Linked DNA regions of Homo sapiens: regions 1, 3 and 4 are each linked to region 2. The links come from fine-mapping of genetic effects on gene expression. A gene starts in region 2. Each other region holds a variant in brackets. All regions are shown on one strand. Distances are between the middles of the regions.

Region 1 (5,000 bases), 96 kb after region 2:
GTTCCGCACATGTACCCCTGAACTTAATGAAAGTTGAAAAAAGTAAATAAATAAATAAATTCTGCTAAATGTAAAAATTAAAGACTGCATTGGCCCATTTCCAGTATCAGCTCCATGTTTCACTGTTCCTTAAAGATTATAGATCTCAGCTACACCGGGACACTAGCCTCTTGTAGAGACGCTCTAGCGCCTCCTTCTGTCTTCTGGGTTGTACACAGTTCCCTCTTGTGTTTTTTCTTTCAGGTGCGAAACTTGTTATGGCTAGGGAGGATAGAAACAGTACTGGAATTAAGTAGCTCTACTTTCTCTGTCATTGCTTTCAGCTTGGCACTTTCAACACATAGAGCAGTGTCTGACACATAGCAGGTGCTTAATAAATGTGGAATAACTGAATGAATTCTTCACAAGCAGCAGCCTTATCCTTGCTCTGTTCTTCTCATATTCAAAGCCTTGTTATTGAAAAGGGGTTGGAGGATCTGCCCCTTTGGTTTTGCTCAGGAGTTTGTCATAGAGGCAGAATCTCAGGCCCCACCTACTGAATCATCTGCCTTTTAACAAGATCCCAAAGTGATTTACATGCACATTGAATTTTGAATAGCACTGCTGTAAAGCATAACTTCAGTCTAAAACAAAACTTTAGGAACCTTTCCTGTTAGAACAGTGATTTGCCCCACACAATTCATTAGGCTTCATATTCCTTTTTTCATCATTAGTGGTTGTGTATTCTGCTTGCCATCCCTAGGAGAGTTCCCTGTGTTGCCAGTTTCATTTGGATACTTTCCTGTTGCTTCATAATCAGGATTATTCAAGATTGTAATTTCAGCTTTATATTTTTAGAAAGCCTTTCATTTATATTAAAATCTCTTTTTAGCAATTTTTGGCTATAGGCTCTTTTTTTAATCTTTAGAAATCTGATTTTTAAAAAATTCTTCTCCTTCCTAGCTCTCATGAACTTTGACATATATCCTTTTCCTCTAAATATTCATTTCATTAGAATTTGATTGAGAATTAAATTAGGTGTTCAGAGAGAAGGCCACTTAGGATTCTTTCAGATTCTTTGCTTATAGCAGACGAGCCTTCTAGCAGAAATCCAGACAGGTGACATTCTTTACTCTTACTCTGACTAGCTTCTGTAATCAAGTAGCACATATTTACAGTTAAAGAATAACGGTCTATACTGCTTTCTAAGGGAACTTGTTCGTTAGGACTGTCTAATTCGTTCCTTAATGATTTTGCTTAACTGTTTTAACTATACACACAGGTGTGTACTATACAGCAGAGTAGATTCTAACTATCAGATAACTACACGCAAGGGAATCCTGGTTGTAGGACTTGGGTCAAGGTCCCACTACTCACCTGGTGGCAGAGTAAGTCACTGTAGGCACAGTCCCTGGGAGAAGTTAACAGCAGTTCATAGAGTCAGCTTATTACCTTCTAATCCTTTTTAGCTAAAAGTAAATAATATCAGAGCATCTTGACTCTCAGGTGTATTCATGGCATTTTTGTAGATCTGCAACATAGTTGAAGGAAGAAAGCAGTTGGGAAGGGAATTACCATGTTGAAGACCTACTGTGTCAAAAGCTTTGCAAACATGTTTTAAAAAGAAAAATATTAACTTTGAAGTAGGAACATGTTACTATAGACCATATAAATTATTTTATCCAGTAAATTTTAGAAAACCAACATTTACATTTGGTTCATCTTTTTTTTTAATTTTTATTTTATAGTTATACTTACTGGTGGACACCAGAGGTGATAAAGCATTTACCATTGCCCTATGATGAAGGTAGGTAACTGTTTGTGTTTTAGTTTTTACACTAACATATTTTGGCATTATACCTTAATGAACTTGAAGCATTAAATCCTTTGCACATAGTATTTTATTAGAAACAAATGAATGGCTGTTCAGTATTATGTTGCTGCTTTAATAGATAGGATATTATAACATCTCTTAGCTTTTTAAAGGGCAGGAATTATATTATACTTCTTTTTATCTATGTAGGCCAATACCTTGTATTGTGTCTTACAATTATTATGTGTCTGTCAAATATTTAGTCAGTAAAATATGATATATCGGCTCATCACTTTAAACTAATACAGTTTATATTTCTACATATTTTGGGAGAATGCGGAGGAAGTAAGGACCTATTCACAAG[G/A]AGAACTTAAAACTTTTTTCCTGTGCTAATAAGCAGTGAAAAAAGGTACAGATGCATGTATAAAAGTACATTTTAGTCACATTTAAATTAAATTTCATTAATTTGTCAGAGGGGCAGGAAACATTCTATATTAAAGGAAAACCTTCAAGTGTATAATACATTAGAATGATGTTTCCAAATTTAAATAATTGCCAAATTTTAAATAAAGCTTAGTTCTGGCTTTGTTACTAACTCCCCTGACCTTGAGCAAGCTCATTTTCCATTTGGTAAAGGGTTCCTAGCAAGATCTCCTGCGAATCTGGAATGCTCCAATTGAGGACTCCATCTAGTCATGCTTCAGCATCCCAACTTTGGGTGGGGAAGGCCATAAAGTAAGATTACAAAGTATTTTTGGTTCTTATTAAGTTATAAATTCATTTTGGAAGGTATTTGTAACTTGAAATTCTGGGCAAAATCATTACTCATATTGCTGAAAAGGTTTAGTTGTTCTGGGAGAAAGGAAAGGGTTTTAACTAACAGTGGCTATTAACAGAATTTGAAATATAAAGGGAAACTTAGGGAAAAAGCTGTACAATTTTTAGCTAAAACACAAAGGGCATTTATTTAAGAGCAAAAAGGAATTTAAAGAACCTCCTCTAAATAACTGCCTGCTCCCATTGGACTTCCTGAGGCCCTCCTGGCTCCTTAGAGCTTGTTGAACTCAGCTTTGCATTGTATTTTCTATGCATCTATCTCATCTCCTTTCTAACTGTGTAAGTGTTGGAGGCAGGAGCTTACCCTCGGTCAGGGCTGTATCCCCCACAGAGCTTATCACAGTGCTGTCTGTGAACACAGTTAATATTATGGAAATGTTTGCTTGCTATAATCTCAGACTTTTAGAGTAACATGCAGTATCTCTCTTAGTTATCTGTGCTGTGAACTTAAAGAAGTTGATAGTGAAGAAATTCCACAAATATGAAGAAGAGATTGATATCCACAATGAGTTCTTTCGGCCATATGAGTTGAGCAGCTTTGATGATACCTTTTGCTTGGCTATGACAAGCTCAGCACGGTATGTTGTGTGTATTCTGATACCATAAGTATTTGAGAACTGTAGTTTTCCTAGTTTGTATATATATGTCTGTCTTTACCAGAAATCCATTCTGTAGGCCTTCTGTCAGGTGGGTAGTCCACCTTTGAATACCTCCTGTGATGGGGAGCCCACTACTTCAAGAGGCAGCCCCTTCTATTGTTCTATTGACAGTTGGAGTTGATTTCTCCCCTTTGATAGGTTGAAATCTGCCTCCTATTAGTCCTAGTTTGCCATTTGGAATAAACTCAGTTTTTTCACTGAACATAGAAATTGAGAGTTGACATAAATTAGTGGGAAAAGCATCATCTTTGGTACTAGAAAGGCTAGGATGTGAATCTTAGTTCAGCCACTTCCTGTGTGACCTTGGGAAAATTATCCAACTTACCTGAGCATTATTTTCTTAATCTGTCTTTCTCTGTCTCTCTTCTTTCTCTCTCCCCCACACACACACGCCCCGCAAGTGCCTTTGTAGTGCCTGGTACAGGCAGGTGATTGATAAATGGTAGCTATTATTATTACTATTATTATTAGTCATAGGACAAATCTAGTTTCTCTTTTGCCTCAAGATATTTGAGGAAGCAGTATTCATTTTTTCAGGGTAAATATCCTTCATTTGTTCTTCCATAACTTATGTGGCATGGTTTCCATTCTCTCTCCATCCTAGTCTCTCACCTTCAGACACATTTCATTCTCTGTATCTCTTTTAGAATTTGATGGGACCCTTTAGGAAAAACGCTGGGACCAGAATAAGAAAATCGAGCAAAGAAAATTACTTGTTATATTTTATACTAAAATTTAATTTTTTATATTTCACATTTTCTTCAGATGTGGTATTTATATGCTTATACTTTGTGTGGTACATAGAAACATATTCTGTGGTTTTGTTTCCTAGAAATCACTCTACATTTTGCTTCAGTTTCAGATAGTTAGGAACAGTTCGAAATTCTTACTTGCTTGATTTTTCAAGTAAACTTGTTAAGGTTTAGCAGTTTTAACTATGAGACCTTTGTCATTTCTAGAAGTTGTTAACTCAGCAAAAGATAAATGACATTAGGTATATGTGTTCATATACATATAAACCCTCACTTCACATCTTTGACAGCTTCTTGGAAACTGACTTTAAATGAAATGATGTCGGAAAAAACAACATTATTTAAGGACCTGCTGTACATTGTTTCACTGGAAGTCATAGTTTCCAAGAACCTATCAATGACATTAAGTGAGGACTTACTGTAGTTAATTGTGTTTGTGGTAGCTGTGTTCTATAAAGTCATTGCAAACACTGAATTAGTAAATACTGGACCATTGCTTCTAAGGGAAATACAGGGTTAGGTTCCTGAGAGCCTCTGGTCACATCATATTTGTCAACCAATCAATACATAACCTAGTTTTGTGTATGTTTTTGTTTAAAGACAGAAACGTAGTTAATATACAATCAGTCCCTGCCTTATAATGATTCAACTTACGATTTTTCAGCTTTACAATGGTGCAAAAGTTACATGCATTAGCTAGAAACTGTTCTTCGAATTTTGAATTTTGATTCAAAATTCTTTATAATAACTTTACTATAAAACAGGCTTTGTGTTAGATGACTTTGCACAACCATAAGCTAATGTAAATGTTCTGAGCACTTTTAAGGTAGGCTACACAAAGCTATGATGTACAGTAGGTTAGGTGTACTAAATACATATTCAAGTTACTATGGGTTTGTCAGGATGTAACCCCCATTCTAAGTTGAGGAGCATCTGTATATTGTTGATTTATTAACATAA
Region 2 (8,272 bases):
TAACACTAGGAGAAATACCTAACGTAGGTGATGGGTTGATGGGTGCAGCAAACCACCATGGCATATGTATACCTATGTAACAAAACTGCACGTTCTGCACATGTACCCCAGAACTTAAAATATAATAATAAAAAAAGAAAAAGAAAAGGCCAAGTGGAAGCTCATGACATTGCATACTGGGTCCTCCACCCCTGGGCAAGATAACCAAGAGTAAATCATTCTGAATGAAGAGTGATACCAACCACAATTTAAAAGATGTACAATCCTGCTTATTTCTCCAGTCTTGCTTTTGTAGAAGCTAGACAGAGCACAACAGATGAGGGTAGACTTCTGCAAATTTAACAAGCTGGTAGTCCCAGTTGCAACTGCTGTGCAGATGGGATCTTTACTAGATAGACACAGTCTCTTGTATTTTTTACGCAGCTGATGATCTGGCAATGTGTGCATCCTTTTCAATCCCTATCAAGAAAGAGGATCGGAAGCAATTTGTATTCACTTAGAGCAGTGACAGTGAACATCCAGTCTTACCCAAGGACTCTCCTGCTGTTTGAGACAATATAGTATAAAGGGGTCTTGATCCACAATATTGACAATATCAGACCTAGTGAGCAGGAAGTTGCAAGTGTCCCGGATCCCCTTATAAAGACACATGAGCAGTAAGTATAAAGTGAGAGATAAACCTACAAAGTTTGAAGGTCTTATTACTTTGGTAAAGTTTTAAAAGGCCAGTGGTCTGGGACATTCTGTCCAAGGTAAAGGATGAGTTACTGTACCTTGTACCTTCAACCTCTAAAAAAGAGGCACAGTATTTTGCAGGCCTCTTTAGTTTTCAAAGAGAGCATAAAGCGCACTAAAGAATACTGTTTTGACCCATTTAGTGGGTGACATGGAAAGCTGTCATTTTTGAGTGGGGCACACAGCAAGAAAGAGCTCTGTAGTTTTAGGTTGTAGTACCAGAGGCTTTGCTTCCTGGGCCATACATCTGGCTAGATCCCACAATACTAAAGGTCCCACAATGCTGTGGTATGTAAGGATACCTTCTGGAGTCTTAGGAAAGCCACAACAGGAGCCTCTCTCTGTAGATCCTTGCTGTCTGCAGCAGAGAATAATTCCCCATTCAAAAAACAGCTCTTGGCATGCTCTTGGGCTCTGGTAGAGAATGAATGCCTGGTCATGGGATATCAAGTGACTATGCAACTGGAAGTATCCACTATGAGCTGGTTATGTCAGACAAGTCAAGTCCTAAAGTCAGGCAGGCACTGCAGCAACCCATTAAATGATAAAAATGGAACAATGGGATCAGGCTCAAACAGGTCTTCAGGGCACAAATAAATTTCAAAAATAAGCAGCCCAGATGCCCATGTCACCTGTCTCATGCACCAATGTCTCTTTCAGCTCACACCTCATGTGGAATTCCCTAAGAAGAGCTGACAGAAAATGAAAACAAAATTCATGGATGAATCACAATATACTGGTAAAAGCTGTAAATGTAATGCTTCCAGACATGAGTTCCTCTCACAAGTGGCCCTGAAAAATGGTGATTAGGGGAAATCTTCCTGGCAGGCAGAGCTTTAAGCAGTATTCCTAGGCCCTCAATTTGGAGGACAATGCGGATTGGTTTCATCAAGGGCCTAGAAGGTACAAGATCAGAAGGTAAGAGAAAAAGAGTTCTGGGGAAGAAGCATGTGATTGGGCCTATGAGGGTGGTGTAGCAAACACACCCTAATCTGACCTCCAGTGAGTCACACCCTTGCATAATCCTCTTCCTTTGAGTGGGAGTGGGGTCTGTAACTTGCTTCTAAATAGAGCAAAGGTGACAGAATGTCTGTCTCATGAATATGCTACATGGTATAAGACTCCATTTTAGGGGACTGGAGGGAGACTTTCTGTTGGCTTGGAAGAAGTAAGCTGCCATGTTGTGAGAGGACCACGTGATGAGGAAGAGTGGGTGGCATGTGAGTGCAGCCCCTGCCAACAGCTGGTAAGAAAACAGTGACCTCAGTCCTACAACCACAAAACGATGATGCTTGCCAACAATGTGAATCAGCTTGGGAGTGGATTCTTCCCTAGTCAAGTCTCCAGATGGAAGCACATCTCAGCCAACACCAGATTGCAGCCTTGTAAAACCCTGAGCAGAGGACCCAGGTGAGTGATGCCAGGGCTCCTGGCCATGGAAACCGTGCGATCACAAATGTGTGTTGTTTTAAGCTGCTAAATTTGCAGTAATTTGCTATGCAGCATAGAAAACTAATGTAAGTGGATGTAAAATACATAGATATTTGTATCTCAGAAAGCATCCACCTCAGAAGAGGCACTGAAAAAACCAGGTGGACAGGATAATTTATCCAGTAGACATGAGCCAATCTTTGCTTCTGGTCACCTCAATGCTTGCATAATGGGTTTGTAAATGAAGTAGGCATGGTGGCAGGGATGAAGGTGATGAAGGATAGGCATGGGCTCATATCAAGGCCTCCTTTCACCAGGCTGGTTTAGCTACACTACTGCTGCTGAATGTTCTACCTGTTCATGGCAGAGACCTGTTCATATTAAGCCCTCAATACGGTACAACCCCTTTAGGAGACAAAACATTCATTCAGTGACAAATTGATTACAAATTGAGACCTGTTCATATTGAGCCCTCAATATGGTACAACCCCTTTAGGAGACAAAACATTCATTCAGTGACAAATTGATTACACAGGACCCCTTCACCTTTAAAGGGGCAAGTGACAAATGCTCCTAATATGGGCTTGTTTTTCCTACCTGCAGTGCCTTGGCCAGCACCACTACCTAAAGGTTTAGAGTATGTCTCATTTATCTTCATGAGATCTCATATACCATTGCCTTGGATCAGAGGACCCTTTTTACAATACCACTTTACCTAGAAGCTACTGGTTTGACAGAATGTTGGAATGGTCTCTTAAAGGCACAGCTAAGGCGCTAGCTTGGGATTGTGTGGGATTGAGACAATGTACTTCAAGATGAGGAACATGCTTTGAATCAAGGGCTGGAAGTAGGAGTGACCCCTCTCACTAATACTCTCAGTGATTGACTTGGGAAATTTGCACCTCACTTCTGGACAAGAGGTCCTGGGTCTGGTGGAGGGGAGAGATGGTTCTATCAGGGGACCCAGTAAAGGTTTCATTAAATCTTAAAACTACTGCTGCCACCTGGTCATTTTTGACTCCAAAAGCTCATAAGGAGTTATTGCACTGGCAGATGGAGATAGGGTTGCTGCTATGTGATTGGATGAGATTGGGGGTGCTCAGGGTGGTATGGCCATAAACTGCTAGATAAGTGGGATAGGGGATGCATTTCTTGAACTCAGGGGATTCTCTGAGACAGCTCTTGATGCTTTCATGTCCAGTGAATGGGTAATTGCAGCAACCAAAACCTTACAATGACACAGTAACCAAGGGCTTATGCTCCTCAGGGATGAAAGCTTGTTATCCTACTGGGCAAACACAGACCAGCAGAAGTGTTGGCCAAGAGTAAGGAAAATCTAGAATGATGTTAGAGGAAGGAGATGATCAATTAGAGACCTCAGATTAATTGCAGTAGTGGATTCTGCAGCTTGTCCCATTAATCTTTTTTTTTGTAAGTCCTTTTCTTTTAAAAATTGAGACTAGCCACTACCTTAAAGAATTAGGGTGGCATGGTGTGAACTTGATGTGGAGGAAGAATGGATACGAGTGCTGCAAAGGGTGGAATGTAGCAGCTGCTATTAGTGCCTCCCCCATATCCACTTGACATACACCTTTTCTATGCACGACCAGCCCAACTTCCAAAATGTTAGCATGTGCGACTTTTTGCCTAAGGGCTTTCTCTGGCTGCCAGAACCTACTCTCCCTGAACACAGGGTAGACTGGAAGTTCTAGGGCATCAATGTTCTGCCCTATCAGGCTTCATCCAATAACTGATGGAAGTTGGCGAATAAATACTCCAGCTTCCTTGCCCCTCAAGAGGGGATAACTGAGACATGCCTCCCAGTATTCCCTAGTGAATTCAGCCCACAGAGAAATTTCTCTGGTAATATTTCCTTTATTAGTTTTCTTCCCCTCCCTGCTGCTGTTTCCTGGGATTACGTCTCATATAAACAACCTGCCTTCAAAGTTTTGTCTTAGGATCTGATTCCGGGTGAAATAAACTAAGATAAAGTTAAAATGGAAGTGCTAAACTATAATAATTGAAAACTAGAATCCTTCAGGTATTTTAAGAGTTGCTATCCTAGATAAAAACACTGTGCAAACATTTAACTAATATTCAGAAGAGTTGGTTTCATTATGAAACAGAACACAGCTAACTATTTTTCCCAGTTAAAAGATCCAAGTCCAAAATGCCAGAACGGACACGGCCATCCTTCTAGTTCTTAATAAAAGGAGTACCAAACTACAGGGGGAAAGAAGCGCAAAATAACATAGACTTAAGTATTTCTTTACAATTTTTGTAATTTCTCAAATTTTAATTTACAATATGATCTTTGGTATTACATGAATGTTATCTGGGTATGCTATAATTCTATAATTTTTTTTTAAAGTTTCCTTACACTTAGCAGTTGAGAAGCCCTCTAGCAGAGGTTTCTGAGGTTTAGAGGTTTCCTGGGAAACCTAGAATTGCCGCCTAAGATAGGATAGCTGCCTCTCCCCTACATCTTATACTCTTGCAGTAGGTGTTCAGTAAATATTTGTGGAATAAATACTTCAGTCGTTGAAAGGAGACGTGGTTTTAAAAAGTGGATTTACAAAGAGACCGTTTTGCAAGAAAAGAAGCTGGTCTGGGGGTCCCCGCAGGAGGCGGGGTTCCGTGCAACAGATACCAAGATGCCTCCAGGGCGGACCACGACCCAGCGGGCCGCCGGAAGGCTCCTTACCTGGCCGCAGCCGGACCCTCCTCAGGGAAGCAACTGCCTCCAGGGACTCCGCGGGGCTGTCGGGCGGTTGCCGGGGAGACCTCTGGCCGCCACGCACCTGCTGCTTGGTGGGGCGGGGCCTCGAGAGGCGGGGCTGTAGTTCTTTGTCATTTCTTTTCCAATTCGAAATAGTCACTTTTGTACCTAATTTGGCATTTATAATTATAATACACTCATTTTCACAACTATGGAAGAGAGGGTACGCGCATGCCCATTTATGTCGCACACATGAAATGAAGAAACCTCATTTCAAGCGCGGCTCCGCCACACTGCGCTAGTCTCTGTCGACAACTTCAAGTGGCTAGCCTCACGCACAAACGTGTGGCAAAGCCACACTTTCCAGCTTTAGGTGATTTTAAAACAATTTCTTGGGCCACACAGCGTAGGTACAACATGGATTAGAGGTGAGGGGAAAACTGACACTCAGTGAAGGACCGTCAGAGGGCCGGCTTCCAGGAAAATGGGCCGCAGCAGGCAGGGAAAACACAAGGATCTATCCTGCAACTCGGAGAACCCTTTTCAAAAGAAGCTACCCAATCCCAAACCTTCCGCTTTTTTCCAAAGAGAGGGAGGAGATAAATAGACTCAATTAATCCGTCGACTTTTTCTCCGCCCATGTTTTCCTCCAATCCTTACCAAAGATGGTGCCCTTCGCTTCCTCTCTCGGCAGCACGCAGGTCCCGGGAGCCTCTACCCGACCTCTCTATGATACGTCCTCCAGCCCCGCTCCCGACGTGAGGGGCGGGGCTTGCCTGGAGGCGGGGCGCAGGGATCCGGAAACACCTGATCATCTATAGGTTTAGTGCCTAATGGGTGTTGTTCCTGGCTGGACTTGATGTCCAGGGCCTGAGGGGTTTTCTCGCCGAGTCTCCTGGGGCGGTCCGGAGGCTCGTGCCCTGTTGTGGGGCCCCCATTTGCCGCCGCCATGCCCACGGCCGCCGCCCCCATCATCAGCTCGGTCCAGAAGCTGGTTCTGTATGAGACTAGAGCTGTGAGTACCCCCTCGCGGCGGGGCGCAGGCGGGAGGATGGATGTCTGCCGGTGGGTGTGGGGCCGTAGGACAGAGGCTGTACTCTGCCTCCTCCTCCTTCCTCTCCAGTTCCCAAATCCCTGTCAAACACAGCCTTGGGGTAAGCTAGCTCCCTTGAGCTGTGCCTGGGCGCCTTTCCCCTATTTTGGTACCCTGGACATTGCAGCATTTGCAGGTCCACTTACAAGCCATGGCTGGAACACGCTGGAAACAGGTGCTTGTGGTACCTCAGGAACTGTTCATGAGGTTCTCTGTACGAGTTACTGGATTCTTTTCAGCTTTCAGAAAGTCTGTTAAAGTTCTAGAGTTCACAAGTTACAGTACAGGCAGGGGTATGAAAAAAATTTGAACTATGACTTGTAACTTATTTTTTCCTATTCCATGGTATACCATCACTGCGATTCATGTGAATTACACTTCTATTGGTGAACTTTTTGGTTCTCTTTTTTTCTTATTTGAAAGGAAAGGAAAACTTACTTTGTTTAAAGACAGATAATTTGTTTGGATAACATCTTGCTTTTCACTTGACTTTTTTCAACATAACATTTACTTTTAAAATTTTATTACTTTGAATGGCCATGTAAATAGTGAATAAGCAGATCAGTTTGTATTTCGATTACCAGTTCCTCAATTAAGGGAGAATGGTGTTTATATAACTTCATACTTGGTCCTTTCTGTGGGTGGAAAGCAAAGTTGGTACAGTATAGCTCTTCTAAATTGGGGTGCCACAGTGATATTAGGGACTGTGTTTAATATTACCCATTTCATGCTAACAAGATTGCATATGCCAGATATTTTCATAATGCTCTTCACTATGTTATAGAGTGCTTTATAAACTGTTTCTCTGAAACTTGGGTTGTCTCCATTAGAGGAGTATGAGAAGGCATTTAACAGTTTCTCAGTTATAACGTAGTCCTAATAGCACAATAACCTCTCCCTCAGGTTAACATGAGTAGAGAATTGTGGACCTTAAATTAATTTTGCTGACAACTTTGATTAGATCTAGAGCAGAAAATGACATTATCAAATATACTGTATTTGCAAGTATTTTCAGTTCTCTAATGAGACCCATAAAGAAGTATCATTTGTCATTGAAATGAAACCTATTTTCTGTAAAATATGCTGCTAAATTTCCCTCATTAGAAACATAAATAACTTTTTTTTTTTTCCCTTTGAGACAGAGTCTTGCTCTGTCACCCAGGCCGGAGTGCAGTGGTGCTATCTCGGCTCACTCACTGCAACCTCTGCTTCCCAGGTTCAAGAAGTTCTCGCACCCCAGCCTCCCAAGTAGCTAGGATTACAGGAATGTGACACCATGACCGGCTAATTCTTGTGTTTTTAATAAAAGACAGGGATTCTCCATGTTGGCCAGGCTGGTCTAAAACTCCTGGCTTCAGCCTCCCAAAGTGTTGGGATTACAGGCATGAGCCACCGCATCTGGCCGTAAATAAAACACAAATTTCAGCCCATTAAAAAGCTGATCACTCATGAGGACTGCGTGAGATATTAGTGTTCAGAAAGCACAATTCATATTATAGGGCTCTTCTGCTCAGAAATCTTCAGTGGTCCCAATTCTGAAGCAAGTAAACTCTGAATCCCTTAGTTGGCATTCAAAGCCATGTATTATTTGTCCTCAACTTGTCTATCTAGTTTTACATCTAATTTAATATCAATTAATGAAACATTTATTGAGGATCAACCATGTGCCTTCATATGCCTTATTCTGCAGTAAAACTGTATTGCTTTCAGTTCCCTATATCTGCCCTGTGTTTTTCTGCTGTTCTCTATTCTCTTAATGCCACACCCCCTCTTTTCCTGTCAAAACCTTGCTGATCCTCACAGCACATATCTGGTCATGCCTTGCAAACAGTAGTCTCTCAATAGATGTGGATTAAGGAGCTCTAACACAAAGAGATAGAGGTGTGTTCCAGAACTCAGCTGTGACCCCTCTCAACTGCCTAAGTAATGGAAACTAACTCTGGCCAGCTTAGAGACAAAAGGTAAATTTATCAGAGGGATGCTAGGGGAGCCATTGCATGGTATCCAGCTTCTGGAAAAGCAGGAAAGAGATAACAGGTTTGAGAACCCTCTCAGAGTACTGCCAAAAACAGTGTAGGTGCTGGGAGAAAAAATCTGATCGACTCAACTATGATTGGTTATCATCCCCTGAGTGGACAAATCATTCATGGCCAGGGGGGGTCTGGCAGGAATGATTTAGCTGTGGAATCAGGATCCTCTTTGTTTCAGCAAATGGTTGGGGCTGGGCAACCACCCTTGAAAATGTCTGCTGCATTGAATCACTGAGTCTCGGTTTTGTTAAATAATTTTTTTTT
Region 3 (8,386 bases), 350 kb before region 2:
CTAATACACACTTTTTTTTTTTTTACAAAATAAGATTATTCTGCATGACCTTTTTTTATAGCATGCTTTTTTGTTCACTTGACAATATGTTATAAAGATCTTTCCTCATCAATAAACATATGTCCATTTATGGTGGCCATTCAGTATTTCGTCATGTCTATGAGCCAGATGGATTCAACTCATTTCCATTGTTAGGCATTTTAGGTCGTTTCCATTTTTCTTTTCTATTGGAAAAAATATAAAGACATATGTAAAATATGTAAAAATATAAAAACATACATAAACATCTGTTTACGTATGTTTTTGTGGATAACTTTTATTCCCTAAATTCCTAGAAGAGGAGCTACTAAGTCAAAAGTCACAAGCATGTAAAATCTTGTCATATATTCTGTCAGCTTGCCTCCAAAATAGATTCTGTCTCCTCTCCCCAGCTGCAGCGAGTGAGCCACTGTCCTTACTCTCCTCCATCAGGGCTCGTCTTACTGCTATTTGCCATCTCTGCTAGTTTGCCTCAATAACTTACCTTGGCCAAGCCCATGGTAGGCTTTCACTGGAGGTCAGTGGAGCACTGGGGTTGCAATGATAGGACAGTGCCCTGGGCCTTCCAGGACAAGCAAATCAGAGCCAGGAGGATCCCCTAGGCTCAAAGGACAGGCTGGCTTCAATGGTAGATGGCCAGGGAGCAGGAGCCGGCCTGACCCCAGAAGTGTCACAGATAAAACTCACGTTACAGTGTAGGCTGGGTCTTAGACTTGGCCCCATAAACTTTCTCACCCCCCATCCCTGCAGATAGATACACACACACACACACACACACACACACTCATTGATGCACAGAGGGACAAACACACTCGCATAGATATGCAGGTCCTAGTTAGGTAGGTCTGTCCTACCTTCCAAATATTGGCTCCCATTTCTCTCCAGAACCTAAATCTAAGCCTGCCTTGGAAGGTTGGGCTGTTCCTTAATTGCCACCTATTCAAAAAGTATGCTCAATCTCCTGGAGAAAGGGAATGAGTGGAATTGCCTAGAGAATGAGCTGTGTGGCCCTTAGACCAGAGCAAGAGAAGCCCCTGCCAGATACCCCATATACCAGAGGGCCCCTCTCTGGCCTTTCTCCAGCCATGACCTTCCCCACAAGGTAAGAAATCCCCTGGGCCACAGGGACATATCCACTCAGAGCCCTGGCCTTCATTTTAGACCATGCTCCAAGTACCTGGGACCTGGAATTCCCTGAGTCCCTGGCCTGAATGGGCCTCCTCCCTGGATCACCTTCCCCCGAGTGAGAGTGGACCTCATCACTAGTGTGCACACCCCTGGCCTGGAAGTGGCCAAGAGGCGACTGGGCGTGTGGATGGAGTTTGGACATGCAGGCTAGGATGTCCACTCACAGGCATGTGAAGACCTCACAGCATGACATGAGGCCAGAGCTGGGAAGAGAAGGGGGTCACACTGTAAACTACAGGTTGGGGACCAGCCTTCCCCAGGTCACCACACTACAGCATAGAACTGAGAGTAGTCGGCCGGGTGACTCTCACACCTGTAATCCCAGCACTTTGGGAGGCCGAGGCAGCTGGATCACCTGAGATCAGAAGTTTGAGACCAGCCCGGCCAACATGGTGAAACCCCATCTCTACTAAAAATACAAAAATTAGCCGGGTGTGGTGGTGCACCCTTGTAATCCCAGCTATTTGGGTGGCTGAGGTGGAAGAATTGCTTGAACTTGGGAGGTGAAGGCTGCAGTGAGCTGAGATCACACCACTGCACTCCAGCCTGGGCGACAGAGTGAGACCCCGTCTAAAAAAACCAAAAAAAACAAAAAAACTCAGAGTAGTCCAGGAATAATAAATTCAAATCTGGCTTTCCAGGTCATTTTTCAGGTCTGTTTTTCAAGGTAGGAGAATTAAACATTTCATTCTGATATTTTGTTAGTTTGATTTATAACCTTTCAATGTTTTGACATGCGCTATGTGGGCTTCCATTGTCCTCGTGTCCTTACAAATGTTCAAAGCTGACTTGAAAGAGAGGCTTGCAAGGCTAGAGCCCATGGTTGGATATAGAGGAGAAACAAAAGTGGGTCTGTGAGCCAAGGCAAAGAGTGCCTGGGGCCCTGGCATGATGAGGCTGCACTGCTGGAGTGGCTGTGAATAATGAATGCCTCTTTCCTTTCAGATCACTTTCAGGAAAGATCACCTTGAGGCCTGCCTCCTTTCCCTGGGTTGTGATGTGATGGCAAGAGAATGCAGCAACTTTGAGACCTACTCCATGTGCTATGAGCATGTGTTGCATCATGCTAGGCAGAGGCTCAGCCAGAAAGAGCAAGTAGGTTCCCAGAGAGAGAAGAACTGCAGTGGGGAATGGGCATGGGCAGGGAGGCTCAGGAGGCACTCAGAAGAGAAAAGTAAAACTGAGGGGGTTGGGATACATACAGTGGTTCTTATGCCAGAACTGAGGGTGAATGGTACCCTCAAATCTCTCTACTCATTGGCTCAATCATTCTCCTGGGCTCTGGTATTCTCAGTTGCACACTAGGTTATGTGCTTGGGAAGTGTCCAGTGGAGAATACGAAAGGTGAGCAACAAAGGGGCTGGCCCTGCAGGGGAAGGTACATAGCTGTCCTTTCCACCCTCAGCAAACACAAGGCACCGTGCGCTGTTCCTGGTCTGGGAAAGAAGCCAGGATCCTTGAGTAAACTCTCTCTTCAGGATGCATGTCATGGGTCAGTCTCACTGGGAGACTTCCTTAAAATATGAGCCTGCTGGTGGGATGGAAGAGTCAGTCCTCCTGCCCTGGGCTGCCCACTATTGTGAAGGTAGATTGCATCAGAGATTTAGTGTGATTTTAGTTTATACCTTAGAAAAGTTCAAAAGTCTAAACCACTAGCCAAAACACCAAATGAAGCATTGAAATGATGAACAACGAGCCTTGGAGCCACCCCTATTTTGGGCTATCCCCATTACTCAGTTCTTGGCATCAGTGTGGGTACCTGGAAGTCAATGTTGTCTTTTGAGGCTGTGTTAGGCATCCTGAAGTCCAGTGGGGCAACTCACACAGTCTCAGCTCCAGGCACAGCCTAAGGTTCTCAAAATGGGGCTCCATTAACACAAATAGGAGGTGTTTGGAATGTGTTGTACTGACCTGAGCCATGGTTGGAAGACTAAATGTTAGAGTTTGGTTGTGTACTGCTTTCTCCTGCCCAGGAATTAGATGCTACACAAAGAGGCCAGGGTCCACCTGAAGACAGTGCTGGCCAGGTAGGTCATTTCCTATTAAAAGGTTCTCTTCTCCATTTCTCACATCCACACTCTCAGGGCTAGCCAGCTATGGGATGCCTTAGAGTCATTTGCTTGTGTCACCTGTAGAAGTCCCGTCAGTGAAGGTCCACTGCAGGAACACCAAGGAGTGTGCTTTCACTTTTGGTGAGCAACCCTCCTTAGGGTGCATTTTTTTTTCTTGAGTTTTTTGGTCGCTTTTGTTATTTTGTACTGGTTTTGTTTTGTTCTGTTTTTGTTGTTACTTTGGGGAGTTTTGTTGTTGTTTCTTGTTTTCTTTTGATGCCAGTTAAGGTGCATTCCAGGCCAGACGCGGTGGCTCACGCCTGTAATCCCAGCACTTTGGGAGGCTGAGGTGGGTGGATCACCTGAGGTCGGAAGTTCCAGACCAACCTGACCAACATGGAGAAACCCCGTCTCTACTAAAAATACAAAATTAGCCAAGTGTGGTGGAGCATGCCTGTAATCCCAGGTACTCGGGAGGCTGAGGCAGGAGCATTGCCTGAACCCGGGAGGTGGAGGTTGCGGTGAGCCAAGATCGCTCCAGCCTGGGCAACAAGGGCAAAACTCTGTCTCAGACTAAATAAATAAATAAAATAAAATGCATTCCAAAAAAGAAAAGGGATGTTTGGGCTGAGGTGTCAAGGGGAGGCCAGTTTGGAAATGGAGGCCAAGACAGTTGAAGTATTTTTCTCTAACTGAAAAGGGCCTATGTAGTGGCTTTTCTGGGGTCACTTATTCACCAGTCAGTGTCTGGCACTGTTCTGGGACCTTTGAATTGTCCTTAAATTCTTCTGCCCACATTTATTTAGCAGAATGTTCACTCTCTTCATTAGGTTTAAAATAGAAGTGAAATTCAATACTGATCTATAAGAAACTATTTTGTAGTAGCAGTTTGAAACTCCTAAATTGTTTTTC[T/TCACACACA]CACACACACACACACACACACACACACACACACACACACACACATTTTCTCATGCTTCTAGATTGCAGAGCTCAGTCATGATATGATCATGGAAATCACCACTCTGAGAGCCCAACTCACAGACTTGGAAGAAGTGAATCTGAATCTCAAGAAGCAGATTAGAAAAGAAGTCCAAGAAGAATATGAAGCATTAGTCCGAGCTTTGTTTGAGACCTGTTTACACATAAAAGTAAGTGTCCCGTGTTGAACATCTGGGCCACCCATTGGGTAGCCGAGTGTAACGGATTCCCATGGTGGCTGCACACCCAGGGATCGATGACAGAATAATGGGCTTTGTAGTAACAAGAGATTGTTAGGCCCAAGAATTTTCTAGCTCTAAGCTTTCACTGCAGAAAGAGAGTCAGCAATGGGTTGTCATTAACCACGATAGACACTGAATTTGGGGATAATATAGAAGTCTATCTTTTACCCTCTATTGACAGTTGCTATTGTCACTGTCTGATTGCTGTTGGGAGGACAGAGTGTTCTGCTCCCCACAGTCCCTCACCTCCCCAGTTTCTATCACCATTTTATCTGTTAGTGTGACTTTCCAGACTACAGTGCCTGGGCCAGGCCGGACCTTACGTAGGTAGCAGCAGGTGCCTCTGGAGAACTCCCTGGACACATTCAGAATTTGAATCAGCTTCCACATTTTTTTCCAACCCTCAAAATGCCTGCCAGCCTCACTCTCACATTCAATGTCAGCAAACTGCTGACCTGTCAGCAAAGACCCATTGCAGAAGTGATGGGGTACGCATGCACCCGCAGCACTGTGGAAGCCAATCGCTTTCATGTGATGTTTGCACAGCCATAAGATAGATGCCCCAAGCCTAAAATGGGCCATCAGGGAGACTGGTCCAGCTGACTCACCAGTGTGAATTTCAGTGCAACCTACCACCTGCAAGTCCACAGCTTCCCCCAACCCTGTCCCCTTCCCTGCTATTGGATACACCCCAAAGCCAGCCCCGTTTGGGTCCTTGAGTCTCTCCCCAGGGATTGCAGAATGGCCCTGAGGGTTGTTAGGTTAACAGGAGCTTCCACCAGTACTCACCTTGGCCTGGTCATTCCAGCGAGAATTTCCTCTTACTTGCAGTGTAAATGCTTACACATATTAAGGGATCGAACCCAAAATGTATTAGGTCTGGTGCTGCAGGAGAAGGATGGGCAGACAGTGACAGCTGGAATTTGCTAAGCCATCTTTCAGGTGTGAGATTGTTGAGAAATGTCTTAAGTTCCTTTTAGCTTCTGCCAGATTCCCAGTTAAAAAGTAGATTCTCTCTGTTTCCCAGGCTGAAGTAGTTCCACCAAGCCTCCTACAGTAGGGAATCCCTGTTATATTCCAGGGTCCCACGAAGTTGCTAAAGCTTGTGTTGTGTGGCCAGAGCCAGGCTTCCCTCCGTGGCTCCCAGCTGGGCACCCTCCTCCTGCCTTCCTCTCCAGGGAAGTGGTTTAGAAGTGAGAGGACACCCCTACCCTACCTCTCACCCCAGAGACACTGGGTGTCTTAGTCTGCTCAGGCTGCCATAACAAAATATGATAGGCTGCACAGCTTAAACAACAGAAAGTATATTTCTCACAGTTCTGGAAGCCAGAAGTCTGAGATCAGGGTGCCAGTGTGGTCTGCTTCTGGCTGAGGGCATGCTTCCTGGCTTGCAGGTGGCTGCCTTCTCACTGTCCTCACATGGGAGAGAGGGAGAAAAAGAAAGGTCTCTCTCTCTCCCTCTTCCTATAAGGCCACAGTCTATTGCAATAGAGCCTCACCCTTATATCCTCATTTTAATCTTAATTACCTCCTAAAGATCCTATCTCTAGATACTGTCACATTGCTGGTTAGGGTTTCAACATATGAATCTGAGGAAGACACAATTCAGTCCATAGCACTGGGTCTTCAGTCGTACTTACCATTGATCAGGCTGTTTCCTCACAAGCCATTTAGCCAGAAGCCATTCAGAACGGAATATTTCCTAATGGGGTTTCTGCTAGATCCTAAATAGGAAGGCAGCCAGCCTGACTCCCTCCTCCACTTTATCTATATTTAACAGAGCTCCTCAGGAGTGGCTCATCTACAGTGTCTTGTCTGCTCACATTCTACTGTGAGTCAACATAGCAGCAAAAATCTTTGGTTCAGCTTCCCAAGTAACTCTTACCAGGGGCAGTTTGGTCAGCAGGTTTTCTACCTGTGTGACCTTCCACTATCCTCCTGGCTCAGCTTGCCTTGGTGTTGACAAGGAAGGCACAATCTAAGATGTGCTGGTGTCCAGAAGATGAAGCCCTGTGAATAAAAGACAGCACTCAGGGGGCTGCTAAGTGTGACTTCCTTATAGTACATGTCAGAATAATTGTCTGAGGAGGTGATATCTTAATGTGAAATTACTTACAAAAGTTAAGTTGTAGAAGGCAAAATGGCTTTTCTTCAACTACCCTTCACACTACCCAAATCCATTTTACTTCCTTGACTTGATTCTGCAATTTGCAGGAGAAGCTGGATGATAATCAGCTTAATTTGATCCAGAAAGTGTGTGAGCTCATCGGTGAAGTGAGAACAGAAGGGATTGACAATATGAAGGACCTAAAGAAAAAATGGTGCTCTGCCAGCCCCGATGAAGGAATGAAAGAAAACCCAGCCAAAGTATGTGATTTCATTTAGCAATGGGATATCAGCGTTTCATCCTAGCATCTGACTCTACCATTCACCCTGTTAGCATTCCAGCCTGATTTCCCTGAGAAAGCATTGCATCAGGCATTTTAAAGGGGGCACAGGGACGCACTGCACAATTGTGTCATCTTCTGGAAGGCATGTTTCTGATGTTAGGGTTTGTGCCCTTCCTATGAAAATGTTGGGGGCAGCCTTTCCTGAAAATGAGCCTTCTTAGCAGGAACAGCTGTGGGCCTTGGAGCAGGACAACTGCAGCCTGGCCAACCTGGTGTGCAAAGTGAGGAGCCTGGGCCGCTGGAGGCTGGCTGTGCAGCAGGCGTGCTTCCAGGCCCAGCTGAGCAGGACAGAGAAGGTGAGCTCTGGTGGGGGAGACCCAGACAGTCCCCAGGATGGCTGATCCCAAGCCTCCATGGCTGCAGCTGCCATGGTGTCACTGTAGCTGTGAGTGGCACTGGTGTCAGGTGGTAGGGCCAACCATCCTGAAGGACCCGACGGTTGGCGATTTTTCCTGGGAACAGGCCATGTGAGAACTTCAGGAGAAACAGAAAGGGGGCAGAAGCAAAGGGGGCAACAAAAAACAGATCAGAGAATTCAGCATAAGGGAAGGAAGTGAAAAGATGGAGGAAAGGCTTCACCAAGGCCTTGAGGCTGCTTTGTCAAAATACCGCATATCTTTGGGTTTCATACATGAGTATCTGAGGAAAATGAAGTCACAAAATAATAAGTGAGAAATCTGCTTTAAGGTAAATTGAGTCCAAAGCTCATATTGATAGCTATTTGGAAACTTTCACATCCTGTTTCTGAAAGTATTTACTCTCATATGTTACCCTCTTCTGAATTAAAATCATGGAAGCAGGCTGGACATGGTGGCTCATGCCTGTAATCCCAGCACTTTGAGAGACCAAGGTGGGCAGATCACCTGAGGTCAGGAGTTTGAGAGCAGCCTGGCCAACATGATGAAGCCCAATCTCTACTAAAAATACAAAAAAATTAGCCGGGTGTGGTGGTGGGCACCTGTAGTCTCAGCTACTCAGGAGGCTGAGGCAGGAGAATTGCTTGAACCTGGGAGGTAGAGGTTGCAGTGAGCCAAGATTGTACCACTGTACTCCAGGCTGGGTTGACAGAGAAAGACTCCATCTCTAAATAAATAAATAATAAAATAAAATAAAATCATGGAAGCAGTGACTAGCAGGAGCTCCCTTCTACCGGAAGTTTGAAAGAAGAATGGATGGGAAAGTGGTTTAGATACTGCTTTTGAAACTAAACATCTGGAAAGGAAACCTATTTCCTATCTTACTGTGTTTGGGATATTTACAGGAATCTATTCAAAGTAAAAAAGAGTATTTGCGCATCAAGCTGATGGCAGAGCGAGAAGTGGGTTTATTTCGTCAGCAGGTCCTGGCTCTCAGGCAGGCCCTGGCCAGGGCACAGGCTGACAGCGCGAGGATGTGGAAGCAGCAGGACAGCCAGGTATCTGAACCTCAGAGCCTCTTCCTCATT
Region 4 (5,000 bases), 40 kb after region 2:
TATGGCTATAAATCATAGAAATAATAAAGTGAGAAATGTATCAAAGGTCTTTGGCCTTTTAAATAGGCATCTAAAAGCCATTACTAAGTTTATAAAGCATATTTCTCTTTATTTTTTGTTGCATAGGTTTTGTCAGGTTCTTAGAAGGCTATTATATTGTGTTAATAACTAAAAGGAGGAAGATGGCGGATATTGGAGGTCATGCAATCTATAAGGTCGAAGATACAAATATGATCTATATACCCAATGATTCTGTACGGGTTACTCATCCTGATGAAGCTAGGTATGTATGGTGGTAACTACCTTTTTTTTTTTGGAGACAAGGTCTTGCCCTGTTGCCCAGGCTGGAAGGCTGGAATATAATGGCATGGTCATAGCTTGCTGTAGCCTTGGCCTCCCAGGCTCAAGTACTTTTTTTTAATGTCGTAGATCAGGTAGAAAATAAAATACAGTTTAGATATTATGAATGTTATGTAAAAAGATCAAATGTTGGCTCAGAATTTTAGAATTTTTGTTAAGAGCTGTTAAAGACTCCATTATAGCAATTGGCAAGAATCAACAATGGCTACTATTAGGTGAGAGGTTGTTATTGAGGAATAGAATAATCACATAGTCCCAACATTTTAAACTCCATGGATCTCTTTGTTATTTACAGAGGAATAAGTATTTTTATGATGAAAAAAACAGCAGACATTCTTATCCAAATAATCAAACTTCACATCACCAATAATGAGACGAAACTGACATTGTTTGACTCTCAGTGGGAAGGACACAGTTTACCTTAGTAGTTAAATATTGCTAAAAATATTTAACTTGAATCTAAGCATGGGGAAATAATCAGATAAATACATACCACTGGACTTCCTGCAAGATAACTGGCCTAGATTCTTAAAAGAATGTAAAAGTCATCAAAGACAAAAAACAAAAGACTGTTCCAGATTTTTAAACAGACGTGACAACTAAATGCAGATTTTGGTCGGATTCTGGGTTAAAAGTGCATGTACTTGTACACACATCCTCACACAAAGATCTAAAGGGCTTTATTTGGACAGTTTGTATGTGGACTACATACTAGTGATCTTGAATCAGTATTTAAATTTGGAGTATAATAATGGTTTGCGGTCACTGAGGAGATTGTCCTTGTTTATAACAGATACATGCTAAAATACTTAGGAGTGAAGTGTCATGATGTCTGCTACTTACAGTCAAGTGGTTTAGAAAAATAAAATGTATTTGTATATTTAAAGAGAGATAATATTTGTTTATGTGTTTAAGGAGAGAGCGCTAAAAGTGAATTCAGAAGAAGGGCATAGTGGTGTTAATTGTACTTTTTTTTCCCTGCAATTTTTCCTGTATATCTGAAATGTTCAAAAGTTTTGGAGGAATTATTGGAACCTTGGAAACGTGGGAAAAGCTATTAACAAATTGATAAAATTGTAAAGGTTGAATTGATTTAATATTATGAAGATTAAAATGGAACAAAGAAATATTTATAAGTTTTTAGGATAGGTAACAGTTTAGATTTTAATTATATCCTGTACTTTTGTAGTGTTCCAATACATGAACCAAAATTTAAAGGTGATGCAGCCCTGTTGCTTGAGACCATCTTAGACAGTGGTTTTCTGAGCCCTTGTGATGTTGCTTTTGATGATGATTTGGAAGGGGGTTATTAGAAAATAATTTGTTTCATTTGAGGATAAGTACAGTTTATCAGAGTAGACCTTTGTCTTGCACTAACTGAAAAAGGTTATATCTGATACAGCTGATAGGAAGGCCTATATAGTGTATTGACTAAAAGTGAATCAGATTGACCAGACCATGCGAATCCAGGGATAGGAAAATTTCAAGAAGTTAATGTTGTTTATAAGTCTCATCTTTATGATACTTTAGCCAAGAATACTAATACAAATTATGTTGTTGTGTACAGTGATTTGGATATCTTTAAAGAATAAAATTATGAGTAATAACATGTAAATGGACTTATTCAGAATAAGATACAATTATATTAATAGTTTTTTATAGGTAAACTGAAGTAATATTACTAATTAGGAAAAACTTTTAATACTTATAAAACTATATAATCCAATAGTGTATCTAAGCAAAACTATTTGGTAAAATATTTGGAAATAAAATACAGTACTATTAAACATTTCATACATAATGTTTATCTCTGTAATGCATGATTGTTACCAATGTTAGAAAATTTACTAGAACAGTTCACCACATTAAAATATTGCTGGAAAAATTATCTTCTTAATGTTTGCAGAAAACATATTTGACAAAATTCAATACCCATTTGTGATAAAAGGTTTTAGCAAACTAGGAATATAAGCAGACTTTCTTAATCTGATAAATGATACCTATTAAAAACCTATATCCAAAATTGTTCTTAGAAGTGAAACTTTAAAAGCATTACTTTTAATCAAGGTAAGGAACAATACAGAGGTATCTGCCGTCACTACTAACATTCAGCCTCATACTGAAAGTCCCTAGGCAGTGCCACAAGACTAGAAAAATAAGGCATAAAGCTTGAAAAGAAAAATTACTGTCATTATGCAAACAGCATCATTTCCTACTTGGAAAATTTGAGAATATCTACAAATTCTCGGAACTGATGAAAGAGTTCAGTAAGGTGACTAAGAAAAGATGGCTGGGCATGGTGGCTCATGCCTGTAATCCCAGCATTTTGGGAGGCTGAGGTGGGAGGATTGAGCCCAGGAGGTTGAGGCTGCAATGAGCCATGTTTGTGCCACTGTACTCCAGCCTAGGTGACAGAGTGAGACCCTGCCTCAAAAAAAAAAAAAAAAGATTAAAAGAAGAAAAAAGAAAAGATCAACATGTAAGACATACAGGAACCAGTAATATTTCCACACACTAGCAGTAACGAACTAGAAAATGTATAAGGTACCTGCCAATAAATATAACAAAAGCTATCCAAAACCTTATGGAAAAAAC[T/G]TCAAACATTATTAAAAGATTTTTTAAATCTCTACATAATTGGAGAGATGTCCCTTTTTCATGGATGAGTCTTGATATCTTGAAGATGTTAGTTTTCTCCAAAATTAATTTATAATTTTTTTTTTTCTTGAGACAAGGTCTCACTCTGTTACCCAGGCTGGAGTGCAGTGGTGCAATCTTGGCTCACTGCAGCTTTGAACTCCTGGGCTCAAGTGGTCCTCCCACCTCAGCCTCCCCAGTAGCTGGGACTACAGACACATGCCACCACGCCTGACTAATTTTTGTATTTTCGGCAGAAATAGGGTCTTTCTGTGTTGACCAGGCAGGTTTTGAACTCCTGGGCTCAAACAGTTCTCCCACCTCGGCCTCCCAAAGTCCTGGGATTACAGACATGAGCCACAGGGCCTGGCCAGTTTATAAATTTAATGTAACATTGATCCAGATTCCAAGAGGATGTTTTGAGAATGGAACTTGACATGATTTTAAAAGTCATATGGAAAAGCAAATGTCTAAGCATGGTCCAGACAATTGAAACAAGAAAAACAAGAAGGGATAAAGTCAACAAGATGGTAAGACCTATAATAATTAAGATAATCAGGTAGTAAGCTATAGTAAATAAGACTGCTAAGTATTGGTGGAGGAATTGATGGGGGTCAATGAACAGTGTTGAGAAAGCCTAGAAAAAGATCCATTTTATGTGGCAAACTGGAATATGATAGAGTGAGCATTACAAGTCATTGGGGGAAAAGATGGGATAAATAGTGTTGGTTTTCCAGTTGGACAAAAATGAAATTTGATTCCATTCTCTGATAATATTCAGGAAGCAATTCCAGAAGTACAAAGATAATTTTAAGAAAATAAAGGTAAATATTTTTATAATCCTGGTATGGAAAAGGATTTTACAAACAAAATACAAAATGCATAAACCATAAGGCAAACAATGCTATATTTGATACTGTAAATATTCAAAATGTATTTATAATCTAGACAAATTTTAGGAAACAAGCAGCAGTCTGAAAGTAGATATTTGTAACATATAACAATGATTATTATTTAGAATGTGGGAAGAATTTCTACAAATCAGTGAGAAAAAAATACAACATAACTGAGAAATGATTAAAAGGAACAGGCAGCTCACAGTAGAGATTCTGAACCTTACCTAGTAATTTGGGAAATGCAAATTAAAAAGGTACCATTTTATTCTCATTAGTCAGTTTGGGAATAATCAGAATATCTGCTGTCATCAAATTATAGCAGAGATGTGGGAAATGAGTTGTATACTATGAGTTATACACTATGAGTTGGAGTGATATTTTAACCACTTAGAAGAACACTTTGGCAATTCCAGCATAATTGAAAATGCACGTTATCTATAGTGCACAGTGGTTCTTGTTTCCGTGTATCTGCCCTAGAGAAACTCTTGCACATGTGTATGGGAAAACATGCATGGGATGCTCTTGGCAGCATTGTATCTTATAGTGGAGAACTAGGAAGAACCTAATGGTCTATCAGCAGACAATGGATAAATAAAGTGTGTCATGTGTAGTTGGCTTTCCTTATCCATGGGTTCCACCTCTGTGAATTCAACCAACCACAGATTGAAAATACTTGAAAAAAACTGTGTCTGTACTGAACATGTACAGATGTTTTTCTTGTCATTATTCCCTAAAGAATAGAGTATAACAACTATAGAATTACGTAGCATTTACATTGTATTAGGTATTATAAGTAATCTGGAGGTAATTGAGAGTGTACAGGAAGATGTGTATTGTGCATTATGTGCAAATACTATGCCATTTTATATCAGGAACTTGAGCATCTGCAGATTTTGTTATCTGAGGGAGGACCTGAAACCAATCCCCCACAGATACCGAGGGATGACTGTATATAGTGAAGACCAAACATTGATTACAAAGTGAACAAATTAAATCTATAACTTTCAACGTAACTAGGTTTCAAAAAATGAGTGAAAAAAGTAGGACAGTATACAAAGTTTGTAATGATTTGCATACATATTTTAAATATACAATATAATGCTATGTATT

What was found. PIP is the estimated chance that this variant, and not a neighbour inherited with it, causes the effect.
Region 1: its variant is fine-mapped to the expression of FIG4 in prefrontal cortex (BrainSeq, PIP 0.95).
Region 3: its variant is fine-mapped to the expression of FIG4 in whole blood (INTERVAL, PIP 0.96).
Region 4: its variant is fine-mapped to the expression of FIG4 in whole blood (INTERVAL, PIP above 0.99).

The regions. Positions count from the first base shown.
Region 1 is chr6:109,783,243-109,788,242 of GRCh38, forward strand. It overlaps FIG4 (FIG4 phosphoinositide 5-phosphatase), which reads left to right. Exons shown (of 23, transcript NM_014845.6): 17 at 1,728-1,786; 18 at 3,060-3,207. Among named protein-coding and RNA genes, the nearest start is that of FIG4, 94 kb to the left of the region's middle. The variant G/A (reference allele first, on the strand shown) is at 2,157.
Region 2 is chr6:109,685,602-109,693,873 of GRCh38, forward strand. FIG4 (FIG4 phosphoinositide 5-phosphatase) reads left to right here and starts at 5,695. Exons shown (of 23, transcript NM_014845.6): 1 at 5,695-5,900. The coding sequence starts at 5,835. AK9 (adenylate kinase 9) reads right to left here and starts at 5,601. Exons shown (of 41, transcript NM_001145128.3): 1 at 5,546-5,601. RefSeq lists a silencer at 1,412-1,612 and an enhancer at 5,179-5,648.
Region 3 is chr6:109,334,196-109,342,581 of GRCh38, forward strand. It overlaps the pseudogene CCDC162P. Among named protein-coding and RNA genes, the nearest start is that of CD164, 44 kb to the right of the region's middle. The variant T/TCACACACA (reference allele first, on the strand shown) is at 4,191.
Region 4 is chr6:109,726,983-109,731,982 of GRCh38, forward strand. It overlaps FIG4 (FIG4 phosphoinositide 5-phosphatase), which reads left to right. Exons shown (of 23, transcript NM_014845.6): 4 at 127-283. Among named protein-coding and RNA genes, the nearest start is that of FIG4, 38 kb to the left of the region's middle. The variant T/G (reference allele first, on the strand shown) is at 2,956.